2 linked regions of the Homo sapiens genome follow. The protein of the gene in region 1 purifies or fractionates together with the protein of each later gene. This does not show direct contact. Each region holds a gene or a part of one and is shown in the gene's direction. Other genes may lie near its edges.

What was found. Proteins that work in one complex are often made in the same cells at the same time.
Region 2: the proteins of TCEAL2 (region 1) and USP11 purify together in Homo sapiens (affinity purification with mass spectrometry; 3 studies listed by BioGRID). This does not show direct contact.

Annotation. Positions count from the first base shown.
Region 1 is NC_000023.11:102,121,615-102,128,729, forward strand, and holds TCEAL2 (transcription elongation factor A protein-like 2), read left to right. Parts: upstream 1-4,064; 5' UTR 4,065-4,192; intron 4,193-4,758; 5' UTR 4,759-4,831; intron 4,832-5,189; 5' UTR 5,190-5,216; coding exon 5,217-5,900; 3' UTR 5,901-6,098; downstream 6,099-7,115. UniProt on the Homo sapiens protein: May be involved in transcriptional regulation.
Region 2 is NC_000023.11:47,235,675-47,243,396, forward strand, and holds part of USP11 (ubiquitin carboxyl-terminal hydrolase 11), read left to right. Parts: intron 1-3,395; coding exon 3,396-3,505; intron 3,506-3,676; coding exon 3,677-3,807; intron 3,808-4,115; coding exon 4,116-4,233; intron 4,234-4,630; coding exon 4,631-4,776; intron 4,777-4,912; coding exon 4,913-4,974; intron 4,975-5,099; coding exon 5,100-5,202; intron 5,203-5,602; coding exon 5,603-5,776; intron 5,777-5,866; coding exon 5,867-6,025; intron 6,026-6,407; coding exon 6,408-6,632; intron 6,633-6,764; coding exon 6,765-6,848; intron 6,849-6,951; coding exon 6,952-7,046; intron 7,047-7,721; coding exon 7,722-7,722.

The DNA of each region.
Region 1 (7,115 bases):
GGTCATTATCCTAAGTGAACTCACACAGGAACAGAAAACAAAATATCACATGTTCTCACATACGTGCATGCTAAACATTGAGTATATATAGATGCAAATAAGGGAACAACAGACACCAGGGCCTACTTGAAGGTGGATGGTGACGACTAAAAAATTACCTATCAGCTACTATGCTTATTACCTGGGTGATGAAATAATCTGCACACCACAACATGCAAATTACATGCAGCATGCAAATTACCCTTAAAACACACTTGTACATATACCTCTGAACCTAAAATAAAAGTAATTAAAAAAAGAACAATCACTGGACCAGTTCCACTGAATTTGTAAAATAAAACCGTCACTTCATTTCACTTTATTTCATATACTTCATCATTCATTTTGTATATTTTATGTTAAATTCTCAAGAAAAATATGTGCAATTGACCCCGAAAGAAGAGGCTTTTCAGAAGAGCATTGCAAGAAGAGGTTTTTCAGAAGAGCATTGCAAAAGAACATTGAGAGCCAGTTACATCATAGGGCTTGGATAGGTCATTTCTCCTGTGCTAACCATTTTTTTTAATAACACCTTTCATATCTATGTGGAGGTTATTGAGATTCCATCTGGGAAAAAATATGTGATAAAATTGCATATAACTAACATGCACACTCTCACACAAATAGATGTGTGTTAAACGGTGAAATATGAAAAAGGTTGTTAGAGTATATCAATATTAATTTTCTGTAGTGATACTCTACTGTAGCTACAAAAGATGTTGCCATTGGAGGAAAACAGGTAAAAGAATAAGAGAGATCTCTATTATTCCTTATAATTACAAATAAATCTACAATTATGTAAAAAAGTTTTTAAAAATGCATTGCATTCTTGTCCAGGGAGCTAAGAAAACTCACCCAATTGTACTCTTGCTATGTTCCAGTCACTGTGCCAGTGACTTTACATAAATTACCTCTAGGATAAAAGTATCTCCTGGCTTTCCCTGAACAGTCCTAATTATTTTTACCTGTTGACCTAGGATCCCATCTAGCTTAACGTTTTCCAAAATTTGTCATTTTTAAAAATGTACTCTTATTACTGATATTTATGTTAAAATAAGCCAGAATGGGTTTAGGAAACCTTTAGTTCTTAGGGCTGCTGTGACAAATAACAATTTTGTTAGCTTAAGATGATACACATTAATTCTCTTACAGTTGTGGAAGTCCAAAGTCCAAAATTAGTTTTACTAGGCTGAAGTAAAGATATTGGCAGAGCTTTGCTTCCTCTGGAGGTCCAAAAGAGACTCTATTTTCTTACATTTTCCATCGTCTGGAGTTTGCATTCCTTGCCTTTCTTGGCTCATGGCCTTTTCCTTCATCTTCTAAGTCTGTAGTGTAGAATCTTGTTTCAGTTTTCACATTGCCTTCTTCTTCCGTAGTAAAATCTCTCTCTGTTTCCCTTTTATAAGAATACTTGTTATTACATTTAGGGTCTTCCTGGATAATCCTTGGTAATCTTCCTATCTCAAGATCCTTAATGACATTTGCAAAGTCCCCTTTTGCCATATAAGGTAAAATTCACAGGTTCCAGGCATTAAGACCTGGATATCTTTGAAGGCAATTATTAAGCCTACCACAGATCTCCACTTTTTACTTCCATTTTTGCATTGTTTTTGTCTGGTAGTGTGTGAGACATCCTTGTCTTGTTCTGGTTCTCAAGGGGAATGCTTCCAGCTTCTGCCCATTCAGTATAATGTTGGCTGTGGATTTGTTATACATGGCTCTTGTTATTTTGAGGTACATTCCTTCAACACCTAGTTTATGGAGAGTTTTTAACATGAAGGGATGTTGAATTTTATCCATAGCCTTTTCTGCATCTACTGAGATGATCATGTGGCTTTTGTCTTTAGTTCTGTTTATGTGATGAATCACATTTATTGATTTGTGTATATTGAGCTAAACTTGCATCCTGGAGATGGATCCTACTTGATCATGGTGGATACATTTTTTGACATGCTACTGTATTCAGTTTGCCACTATTTTGTTGAGGATTTTTGCATCCATGTTAATTAAGGATATTGGCCTGAAGTTTCCTTTTTGTGTGTGTGTCTCTGCCAGGTGTTGGTATCACTTAGTGATTTTATAGTGTTAATATATGTCTATATTTATTTTACTGATGGGAATGATACTTTTATTCTGCAATAAGAAACAAAAGGTCTCTAGTGAATGGTATGTTCAGTAATGTTACTTTTCTAAGAAAGTGGATGACAAACATTTAACTTAAAATATGTTTAATCAACATATACTATGCATCAAGAGAACTGTCATTATATCTTCTTCCAAAGGTAGTAATTACTTGAGGAACAATGTGTCAATTTATTACATGCAAATGCAAAAGTTGTGTTGACTTCTCATTTTGTGAACAGATCTTTTAATTTAGATAAAATGACATTTCTTCAAATTTAATGATACTAATTTTGAATCCCACATTTTTGTGTATATGTTTTAAAAGAGGAGAAATAGTTGTTAATACTTTGGCTCCATTAGCAAAATAACTTAGCAAATAGTTACTGAAGACAGCTTAAAATCACTATAATTAGATGATTAAAACAGAAAATCAGTTCTTTTCAACTGATTTGATATTATTTTCATCAAATTCTTGAATAATTATAATAATTTTATGGAAGTTTATACTGATGAAATTGAAACACCTAGCCTCGATAATTCAGGAAAAAAATTCAACATTGAGGACAGAATTATTGGTGATGTGGTGATAATGACGAATACACATATTGATAGAGCAAAATACTGTAGGAAGATCAAGGTTTTACTAAATGAAGAAAGATGTGTAGCAGAAATATAATCAGAATTGCTTGTGTAACACACATAATTCATAATCCTGTAATCATGATAAGGTATTTTGCAAATCAAAATAAAAATAGTTGTTGCCCAGATATACACAAGACATACACATACATATGTACACACATATACATCTATACATATATGTGTGTATAAATAAACATGTGTATATATACATATACATGTCACTATACTGTAGAAGCTAAAATATTGGTGATTCTTAGTTTTTGTGGGTGGTGGCTTCACGAATGTGAAAGAAAAGGAAAGAAAAAAAAGACAAAGGATGGGAAGGGGAGGAAATAATAGGACGGGAAAGAAAAGGGAAGGAAGAGGGACAAGCAGGGATCGATGATAAGGGTGTGTTGTAAACCAAGGACTATGATGAATTTGTGCATCTGAAATTCATATTTAAAATGTTTTAATGCTTTCTTTTCTACCTGTCTGACATTCTCTCTCTATGAAAACTGATCAAATGTTGGAAGGTAAGTTTCAAGTGTGGAGAGAGACCAAGGGAGATGGCAAGAAGGAAGTTGGTAAATCAATTTGGGGTACACGGGCTTTGGGGTCCCTCAGGGACACTCAGGCGGTGATGTCCAATAGACAGTTGGCAAAGCTGATATGAGACACGGAGAAGGGAACAGCCTGGAGCTGTAGATCTGGGAGTCATCGGTGTTTACTGGAAATGAATGAGATCACACAGGGAGAGACAACTTGAGGACTGAGGAGAGAGGAGGCCCAGGACAGAACCCCAGGAACACCGCCACTCAAGGTGGCAGCTCAGCTTCCTGGCAGGCACCACTACCCCCCGGGCTCTGGAGTCAGGCAGAGCCGGTATTGAAAGTGGGCTGTGGAGTTCTGGGGCTGAGCGCTCTTGGCAAAGTCCGGTACCTCTATGATCAGCTGTCACACCTGGCGATAATGGGCATCAGAGAGATATGCCTTGCGAGGATGCTGTGAGCTGCGTCAGGTAAAGCACCTAGGGTCAGAAAGCCACCTCTCCTCCTCTTCTCCGCGACCCCACTTTGCTACACAAACGCACCGAGACTCCGACCGTCCCCAGCCTCCGGTCCCTCAGGGATGGAAGGTGAGGTATGTCAGGAAAGAGAGGGGGGCCCAGCTCCAAGGTGAGGTGTGTCAGGCAAGAGCGGGGGCAGAGCTCCGGTGACGCGGTGCTCACGTGACCCGCCCGGCGCCTACGTGGGCACCAGCCCCCGCGCCCGCCCGCCAGCCCGCCCAGCGGTCGGGTCCGGGCGCCCGCGCAGAATCAGCTGTCTGAGCTGCCCAGGCGGCGGGGGAGCAGCGAGCGGGCTTCAGCGAGCCGCAGGAGGCACAGGCCTGTCCTGGGTCCCCGCAGGTCAGTGTGAAGGCGTGCGCTGCCGGCGGACCCTGGGACAGGGGTGGAGGGGGCTGGCAGTAGGATTGGGGAGGGGGCGGAGAAGGGATCCGGTAGATTGGGGAGGAGGGGGATGCGGAGTCGCGGGGGCGGGGGCAGTGGAGGGAGAACCCCCGAAGCAAGCCTGGCTCGCCTTCTCGACGCCCCCTTGCACTGAGTCCTCCATCCATTTTAGTGCTGGAAATGGGGGGTGGGGGTAGCGACCCCGCAGTGCGACAGTGAAACGTAGACATATTCTGGAAATAACCCCTTCTCACAATCTACACCCATGGAAACACTTGATCTCCGCAAAAATGAGGTGGCGCTGGGGCAGGTTGCCTCCGGGGAAGGGGGACACAGAGACAAACGCAGTTTGGAAAGCATCCTGGTTTGGTGCCCGAGGCCTGGAAAGAAATGGCGGCTGGGGTGCGGGGGAGGTAGGGGAGGAAAACGGTGGGTAAGCAGGGCCTGGACTCAGGAAAGGGAACCGAGTCCCTGTGAGCCCGCTAAGCGCGCAGCCCCTGCCCCTGTCTCCTGTCTGTCCGCAGGTCTGCGCGTCTGTTGTTCCCAGCGCTCTGAGAGGCCTGAAAAGGAAGAGCAACCTGTCCAGAATCCCCGCAGGTCCGTGAAAGCAGGGGGCTGCATGGACAGGGGCCCACAAGGGTTGAGAGTGTGGAGGGCACAGTCAGGGCCGAATTGGGGCCCCTGCCCATCCCCTTACCTACATGAACACACACCTTACCAGGCTGAACCAGTGCAGAGAAGGTGGCAGGGCCTGCCAGGGAACAGCTGGCTCACGTGTGTGGGAGGAGTGGTGGGCTACGTGGTGGGCAGAAGGCCCTCTTGGAGGCCCAGTCAGCTTAGGGGAACCCTCACCAGGGGTGAGATGCAAGTAGTATCCAGACCTGCATTCCACCCCATGCCCTCAGTCTCCCATGTCTCCTCTTTGTCTCCTCTTCCCTCCACACCCATCCCCCAGGAAAGGAAAAGGAGGGGAAATCTCGACATGGAAAAACTCTTCAATGAAAATGAAGGAATGCCTTCGAATCAAGGAAAGATAGACAATGAAGAACAGCCACCGCACGAGGGAAAGCCAGAAGTAGCTTGTATTCTGGAAGACAAGAAGTTAGAAAACGAGGGAAACACAGAAAACACGGGCAAGAGAGTTGAGGAACCGTTAAAGGATAAAGAAAAGCCAGAGAGTGCGGGAAAGGCAAAAGGAGAAGGAAAGTCAGAGAGGAAGGGAAAGTCAGAGATGCAGGGAGGATCAAAGACAGAGGGAAAGCCAGAGAGAGGGGGAAGGGCAGAGGGTGAAGGAGAGCCAGACAGTGAAAGAGAGCCAGAGAGTGAGGGAGAGCCAGAAAGTGAAACAAGGGCTGCAGGAAAGCGCCCAGCTGAGGATGATATACCCAGGAAAGCCAAAAGAAAAACCAACAAGGGGCTGGCTCAGTACCTCAAGCAATATAAGGAAGCCATACATGATATGAATTTCAGCAATGAGGACATGATAAGAGAATTTGACAACATGGCTAGGGTGGAGGATAAAAGGAGAAAAAGCAAACAGAAATTGGGGGCGTTTTTGTGGATGCAAAGAAATTTACAGGACCCCTTCTATCCTAGGGGTCCAAGGGAATTCAGGGGTGGCTGCAGGGCCCCACGAAGGGACACTGAAGACATTCCTTATGTGTAGTGTCCCTGGCAGGCATTTGTCAGGCCATATGTTTTAACCTTATGGTAATACTTTGCTTTAGTCGTTCCTCCTGCTACCAGTAGCGTTTTGACCCACCTGCCAGTGTTTGCTTGCTCTATGTTTCAGTAGCAGATTTTCACACATGTGCATTGCAGAGACGTCATGATTCGTGGAAAAATAAAGCAGCTTATAATATCATCTACAGAATCTGTCTGTTTTTGTTAAATACATGAAAGGTTAACAGTGGTTTTCTGAGTTGTGAGCTAGCAGGTGATTTCATTTCTTTGTTTTCTTTCTACTAATCTTTCTTTTCCCAGAGAACACAAATTACTTTTCTCACAAAAATAATAAAATATTTTTAAAAAATCAGAACAGTATGTAAAAAGCAAAGAGAATAACTGTCCAGTGAACTTATGAAGTTCAGTAGAGACACTTAACGTTCTTGTTGTCAGAACTTAAAATGATAGGTAAAATTCACATTACCTACCTGTGGGACTCATCTGGAGAAGTCAATCTGGGGTTATTACAGATCCATTGCTCTAACGGACAGTCTTTTCATTTGTCAAATAGAGATAATACCTTGCTTTTCAGAACTGCTGAGTGGGTTGGATAAGGTAGAGAATATATTTGTTGGGTTGGCATCTACCTTCTCCCCTGCTCTAGCAGAAAAAAATACCCCCTCAGACACTTGGAAGAGGACTAGGGTAAATCTTACCTGTGTCCAGGAATAAGTCTAGGAAACTGAAAGGTGGGTGCCATCCTCTTTTAGACAATGTCATGTCCACTGGGCACTGTGCTCCTTCTCATAAATCTTGCACCCTCCTAAAGCTCACATTGATGCCGATGGGCTGAAGTTCTCAAGGTAACAAGGTCCAGTTGATTTCCAGTGAGCCAAGCCTACTGACCCCATTCCACAACAACTATGAAAATGTGGATAAAGTCCCTTTCCTCACTTTAGAGTTATACTCGCCCAATAGGGTAACACCTCAGTGATGCTTCAGCCCCTGGGGGATTTCAGATTTTTAGTAAAACAATTATTTCTATGCTTGTTGGTTTGTAAGTGTTTGCATACAGCCATCTCTCCACCAAATTCAGAGATAGAGGCTGGGGTAAAATTTGAGTGGCACACACTCATCTGTTCTCATCTGTCAGTGACTTGTATGCTTGACTCATCTTTCCTTAGAGTAAATTCTCTTCTAGGAAAGTCCTTCCAGG
Region 2 (7,722 bases), about 55 Mb from region 1:
TTAGGGCTTTTTCGAGTGAGGTTTACTCACTACAGAGTTCTTTAATAACCACACCAGTGAAATGTGTATCTCTGTTACTGGGGAGATGAGTTGAGATTTTCCAAATCGGGAATACAAACCCAAGCCGTGTTTTTCTGCCATTACGTCACACTTTTCCAGCAAGAAAAAGCCTCATTTCATCCTGAGAATAAACAAAATAACCACAGTGTTTTGTAACTCATTTGAAGATGTTCAAAAGGGCCTTGAGGCTTTGATCCTTGCCTCTTCCTACCTTTGTAGCCTTGTGATTGTGTCACTGGTAGGACATGACATCCTGTCATCCTTGATAATACGCTTTAAAATTACCCCACCAGTACTGGGTTTTCTTTTGGGATGATGAAATATTTTGGAACTAGGGAGAGGTTGTGGTTGTACAACATTGTGAATGTTCTAAATGCCGCTGAATTGTTCACTTTAAGATGGTTAATGTTATGTTATGTGAATTTCACCTCATTAAAAAAATTACCACACCAGTGTTGGTTCAGTGTTGAAGCCGGTTTGTCTCTGCTGTCATGGGTATTATCATGAAGCATTTTTGCTAAACTCCACTTTGTTAATGCTTCTCTAGTAAGAGCAAAGCATCTCAAGGTTCTTTATTGCTGTCCATTTTCCATTTTACAGGGGTTTGCTTAAGTGGCCAGGATATATGTGTTTATAAAGCATTTTGAAGTCATGGACTAACCCCAAATCATATATCTTGTATCAGTATTAATATTTGCACCTTCTGTCTTTTGTCAGCTGGCAGATTTGGGTGAGGGTAGTTAATTAATTTGGTCATCACAACTGATTTAATTTCTGGGAGAAGCTTGTATTTTAAGGCAAATTCAAATCTGTAATAATATAGCCTCCTTGGAAATTTTCACTTTTTCCTTTTGTGGGATGAACCATCTTCAAACACAAATCAGACACAAGAGAAAACTAGAAGACAGAAAATAAAGAATTGTTTAGCAACTTTTTTCCATAAGCACATATTTCATATCATTTCAACAAATTTGAGGAAGCACGAATAAACCTAAGTGACTTTAGCAAGATCAGTTGTACCTGTATATACTGGCAGCAAGAAACTAGAAAATTAAAATTTATGATACCATTTATGATAGCATCCAAAAAATTGAATACCCAGCTGTAAATATAATAATTTGGGTGTTATTGATACAGACCATGACACCTTTGTTGTGACTGCCACCTGGCCTGACAGAGATTGTGAGACATCCTGATTTCAGAGATGTTAACAATGATTTTTTTAAAGTGTCTTTGACTTGAAGCAATATGGTAATAATTTTCTGTGAAAAATTATGTAAAATGTCAGTCCTCTATGAAATCTATAGAAGTTCAGCCTGTGACCAGGTCTGGAAGTTTTGCTTACCACTCTACAGCGTGATTTTAATGTTATTTTTTGTTCAAAATCTGCTCTTAAAAAGAAGTTGAGCAGTGCCTACCTTTGCATTGGAAGGTACTGTTAACTATAGCTTTACTGAACAAATTAACTTCATAGACTGGCTATGGAGGCAAGTAAAGCCACAAAGGGTGGATGGTGGTGTGTGGGGTGCAGGGTTGGGTCTGAGCATTGAGCCACCGGCACAGAAGGGTTTGTTTCCCTGGTGTGAGTGATATGGGGCAGGGTCTGTGGGGGTCAGTGCAGCAAAAAAACAAAACCAACAAAAAACCCACAGAAATGTTTGCCTATCTAGGTGACTTGTGACTATTCCAAGATTTGTCTGTCCCTCCATCCTCCCACCTCTCTGATCCTTTCATGAACAAGGGAAAGTTGACATTTTAAAGAATCACATTGATGAGGTTAAATTGGGAGAATCGCTTGAACCCGGCAGGCAAAGGTCGCAGTGAGCTGAGATTGTGCCACTGCACTCCAGCCTGGGCGACAGAGCAAGACTCTGTCTCAAAAAATGATAATAATAATAATGAGGTTAAATTGCTTGAAAACCAGCCAATATAATGTTATGTGCATTTCATCAAATTTGGTTATTTTTTAAAAAGCATTTATTTGAGGCTGCTCAGTATTTGGGATAGCCTTTTATGTGTCAGAAATGCCACAGCAGAACAGGTGTGTGTGTATGTGTGTGTGTGTGTGTGTGTGTGTGTGTGTGTGTGTGTGTTTAGGCAGGAGGAGGTTTATGTCTGTGAGCTTTTATGTCCAAGTCCTGAAGTCCAAGCTGTCAGAACAATGACAGCTAAAATTCATTTAGCACTTATTATATGTCAAGTATTTTCCAAACTTCAGGATTTCTCACAAAGGTAGATTTCAATATAGTTCTAAATGGTTATCCTTGTAGTACATATAAGTTTCACCTTTAAAAGAGAGCTAGTTGAACTGTATACTGAAAAATGCTTGATGGTAAGTTTTATGTTACATGTTTTTATCACAGTTTTTAAGAGAACCATAAGCTCAGGAATTTACTATAAAGCCAAAGTAAATTCTAAATTAAAAAATGATGAACAATAGCAATATGCAGTTCTTTTTTTTTTTTTTTTTTTTGAGATGGAGTCACTCTGTCGCACAGGCTGGAGTGCAGTGATGCAGTCTCGGCTCACTGCAACCTCTGCCTCCAGGGTTCAAGTGATTCTCATGCCTCTGCCTCCCAAGTAGCTGGGATTACAGGCACGTGCCAGCACACCTGGCTAATTTGTTGTATTTTTTAGTAGAGACGGTTTCACCATGTCAGCCAGGCTGGTCTTGAACTCCTGACCTCAGGTGATCCACCCGTCTTGACCTCCCAAAGTGCTGGGATTACTGGCGTGAGCCACTGTGCCCGGTCTTTTTTTTTTTTTTTTTTTTTTTTCAGTATGCAGTTTTTGAAGGAAAACCTTATGATTCTTTTTAGCATTTTAAATTCTTTGCTCCTTTTAAAAGCAGATTTTTCACCATTTATCAAATCTAGTTCTTAGCTGAAGAATTATGCTTCCATTGATAGATCCTTTAGAAACAAACACATAATGAATGGCTAAAGCCTTATAAAATTAGCTGCAGATGGCACATATCTTGAGCCTAACTTAACTGGGTTATCCCACAGACTAATTCAAATGAATCATCTTTTATTCTATAATAAAACCTCATGTTTCCTAGCACTATAAGTATGGATTTTTTGTTGGTTTGTTTGCCATTGTTAACCACATTTTCTGTTTTTAATCAGATTTCTTTTTTAATACTAAGAAGTTATCTAACATACAAATCTGAGTTTCACTGAATAAATTTTGCTTCGAATTTATTTTTATATGATGCTGAAACTTTTCATCTTAAATTATAATGTGTCAATACTTTCAGTCTGTTGGGCATGGGAAGTTGTATAGCTAACCCTCAGCTACCCATGTAACACCCTTGTTACCTGTCTGGGCCCCAGGTTCCTTGTGGAGAAGCACTGGTATAAGCAGTGGGAGGCATACGTGCAGGGAGGGGACCAGGACTCCAGCACCTTCCCTGGCTGCATCAACAATGCCACACTCTTTCAAGGTACAAGGCCTTTGCCTCCTTCTCACCCTAGCCCTGGAGTTCTTGTCCCTTCCGTCCCTACAGATGATCATAAGCCCATTCTGTGTGCTAGGTCACTGGTGGGGTGGCCAGAGTCATTCGTCAGTTTCCTTTGTTGATTCTTCCTCTGCCACCTCCACCCCCGCCCCACAGATGAGATAAACTGGCGCCTCAAGGAGGGACTGGTGGAAGGCGAGGATTATGTGCTGCTCCCAGCAGCTGCTTGGCATTACCTGGTCAGCTGGTATGGTCTAGAGCATGGCCAGCCACCCATTGAACGCAAGGTATAATGGATGGGGAGGGTGCATGGCGGGGAGTGCGTAGTAAGAAAGCCTTGTAGGCCCAGCATGGGTACAGATCCATGTATGCTGGGTAGGTACACATATGTCTGCTCTCTTCCCCCTCCTAGCTCATCATACAGGTATCTTTGTCTGCTGTGTGTGTTCCCCTGTGTGGCTCTCTTTACAGACCATTGTATATGTGTGTTTGTATGCTATGTTTGTAAGGCAGAGTGTGTGCTCCTCTCATTTGAGAGGTCACAGCGCTGTGTCTGTGTGAGTACACCTGTGTCTGCACCCCTCTACTCTTACAGGTCATAGAGCTGCCCAACATCCAGAAGGTCGAAGTGTACCCAGTAGAACTGCTGCTTGTCCGGCACAATGATTTGGGCAAATCTCACACTGTTCAGTTCAGCCATACCGATTCTATTGGTGAGTCTAAGGGTCACGCAATGGGTTGGTGTTCCTAGCTACTAGTCCCAACTCAGTGACTTGAGGTTGCATAGGGTTAAGCTGAAGCTGACTGAGAAGGCACTGGTCAGACTTTGGAAGACCCAGAAGGCATTGGCTAAGTTGGGTGGAGGCACTGAGGGGATCTACTAGAGCCCTGAGGGTATGTGAGCTACATTCTAGTGGCTTACGTGGTGTGGCAGAGGATATTTGCTGGAGATCTCCAGTCTGGAGTGTGGGCCAGTCATTTGGAGACTGATTGAGGACACAGGTATTGGCCAAGCATGTGAGGTCCGTAGGGATGAGTCAGGTATGCCCAGATGGATTGATCATTTTGGGTCTCACAAAGATCTTGAATGTACTCCATCACCCCGCACAGGCCTAGTATTGCGCACAGCTCGGGAGCGGTTTCTGGTGGAGCCCCAGGAAGACACTCGGCTTTGGGCCAAGAACTCAGAAGGCTCTTTGGATAGGTTGTATGACACACACATCACGGTTCTCGATGCGGCCCTTGAGACTGGGCAGGTAAGGGTGGGGAGGGCTTTTCTGTTCAGGTGGACTGGCAGATAGACTCACCTGGCAGTACTCGGGGGAAATGAAGGCTAGGTACCCATAATGTCCTCCATTAATACCTTTCCTTCTTTCTCTTTCTCCAACCCAGTTGATCATCATGGAGACCCGCAAGAAAGATGGCACTTGGCCCAGCGCACAGCTGCATGTCATGTGAGCCCTTGGGGTATCTGGTCCAGAGCGGGGGCGTCCCACAGTAGGCAAAATGATTTAGCCCATGAGCACATTGCACCCCCATGCAGCAGGCCCTCAGCTGACAGTTTCTCATCTAACCCCAGGAACAACAACATGTCGGAAGAGGATGAGGACTTCAAGGGTCAGCCAGGCATCTGTGGCCTCACCAATCTGGGCAACACGTGCTTCATGAACTCGGCCCTGCAGGTTGGGCCATTATAGTTGTGTCTGGCACAGCCACGTGGTTGGGCTTCAAGAGCTGAGGATTGGGGACAGAGCTGGGGTCCTGAGGGGACTACAGGGCAAGGGGTCAGGATGAAAGCTGAGGCCCCACAAGTCTGAAGTGGCACGCCCACGTTCATTCCTGAACTATCAGCCTCTTCTCTCAGCTTGCCCTCATTTTCCCTCTTCTCTTCCCTGTTCCCACGTTCTTCCTTCTCGTGAAATCCTAATGCCTTCTCTCCCCTACTCTCCTGCTCCTCTCTCTCCTCCCTTCCCCTTCTCTCTTGTTTTCCTCTCTCTTTCCTCCTGGCTTCTTTTTGTGTATCCTCACTTTGAACCTTCTGTCTCCCCTCTGCCTCATTCACCTGGTCTCTGGCCTCTGCAGTGCCTCAGCAATGTGCCACAGCTCACCGAGTACTTCCTCAACAACTGCTACCTGGAGGAGCTCAACTTCCGCAACCCACTGGGCATGAAGGGTGAGATCGCAGAGGCCTATGCAGACCTGGTGAAGCAGGCGTGGTCTGGCCACCACCGCTCCATTGTGCCACATGTGTTCAAGGTGTGACTCAACCCTGGGCACCCCCGACCCCCTACGTCTCTTGGCTCTCCTAACTCCCTCTCTCTCTGATGACCCTGCCCATCTTCTTAGAACAAGGTTGGCCATTTTGCATCCCAATTTCTGGGCTACCAGCAGCATGACTCTCAGGAGCTGCTGTCATTCCTCCTGGACGGGCTGCATGAGGACCTTAATCGGGTGAAGAAGAAGGAGTATGTGGAGCTGTGCGATGCTGCTGGGCGACCGGATCAGGTAGGCTGCCCCCGCATTTGCAGTCCAATTAACATCACCAAGGCCTCTGCCTCGGGGATTTTCTGGCCTCCCTGGGGTATCTAACACGCCACCATTTTCTGTTAAGTTTCTCTACCTGACCTCAACTCCAGCCTTACTCTTAACCTTAGTTGCAATACCATATCTGCCCCCACAGTCAACCCAGAGTAAACCCCAGCGCAGTCTCCTGCCCTAAATGACCCCCAGTCTTGACCGTGAACATAGTCTCTGTGTATCCCTAGCTGGAGCTCTGCCTCTGGACTTTAGCAGTGGCCTTCCGCTTCACCCCATTTGAATGCACCCCAAGCCATGGTTTCCTCTTACCCTGGGCAAGCCCCACCACCCACCATGACACTATCAACAGGAGGTGGCACAGGAGGCATGGCAAAACCACAAACGGCGGAACGATTCTGTGATCGTGGACACTTTCCACGGCCTCTTCAAGTCCACGCTGGTGTGCCCCGATTGTGGCAATGTATCTGTGACCTTCGACCCCTTCTGCTACCTCAGTGTTCCACTGCCTATCAGCCACAAGAGGGTCTTGGAGGTCTTCTTTATCCCCATGGATCCGCGCCGCAAGCCAGAGCAGGTGTGGGGCAGTGGGGGCCTGGGGAGATGATGATGGACACATAGAGTTTGATTAGCTGCCATAGCTCAAGGCTTCTTGCATTAACTCACCACAAGCCCTTTTGGTCTTTTGTGGATACCGTTTTTCCCTTAGCACCGGCTCGTGGTCCCCAAGAAAGGCAAGATCTCGGATCTATGTGTGGCTCTGTCCAAACACACGGGCATCTCGCCAGAGAGGGTGAGACTGCAGAAGGAGGCTGGATGGGATTCCAGGGCAAGGAGGCAGAAGGGCCTGGGAGGCCGTGCAGACTAACAGTCCCCTCTCCATATCCCATTCCTAGATGATGGTGGCTGATGTCTTCAGTCACCGCTTCTATAAGCTCTATCAGCTAGAGGAGCCTCTGAGCAGCATCTTGGACCGTGATGATATCTTCGTGTGAGTGGGGATGGCAGGGAGGTGGTGGTTCCTCAGGAACTTGGTCCACTTCCTTTTGTATGGTCCTGCCTTAACCACCTTCTCTCTTCCCTGCCTCTGCCTCGTTCACTGGGCACCTGCCCTGCGCAGAGCTTCAGCCACATGCCTTGGGAGGCTGAGGCAGGAGAATCACTTGAACCCGAGAGGTTCAAGTGAGCCAAGATCACGCCACTGCACTCCAGTCTGGGCGACAGGGCAAAACTCCATCTCAAAAATAAATAAAGCCGGGCGCGGTGGCTCACGCCTGTAATCCCAGCACTTTGGGAGGCTGAAGCAGGCAGATCACGAGGTCAGGAGATGGAGACCATCCTGGCTAACACGGTGAAACCCCGTCTCTACTAAAAATACAAAAAATTAGCCGGGCGTGGTGGCAGGTGCCTGTAGTCCCAGCTACTCGGGAGGCTGAGGCAGGAGAATGGCATGAACCCGGGAGGCGGAGCTTGCAGTGAGCCGAGATCGTGCCACTGCACTGCAGCCTGGGCAACAGAGCGAGACTCCGTCTCAAAAATAAATAAATAAATAAATAAAAATAAAAATGCCTTCAGGCTGTGAGGATGAGTGGGTGGGGCAGCCAGGGCAGAGTCAGGGAGTCTCTGGGGGCCCTGATCAGGTGTGCCTGCTGTCCACCCCCCACAGC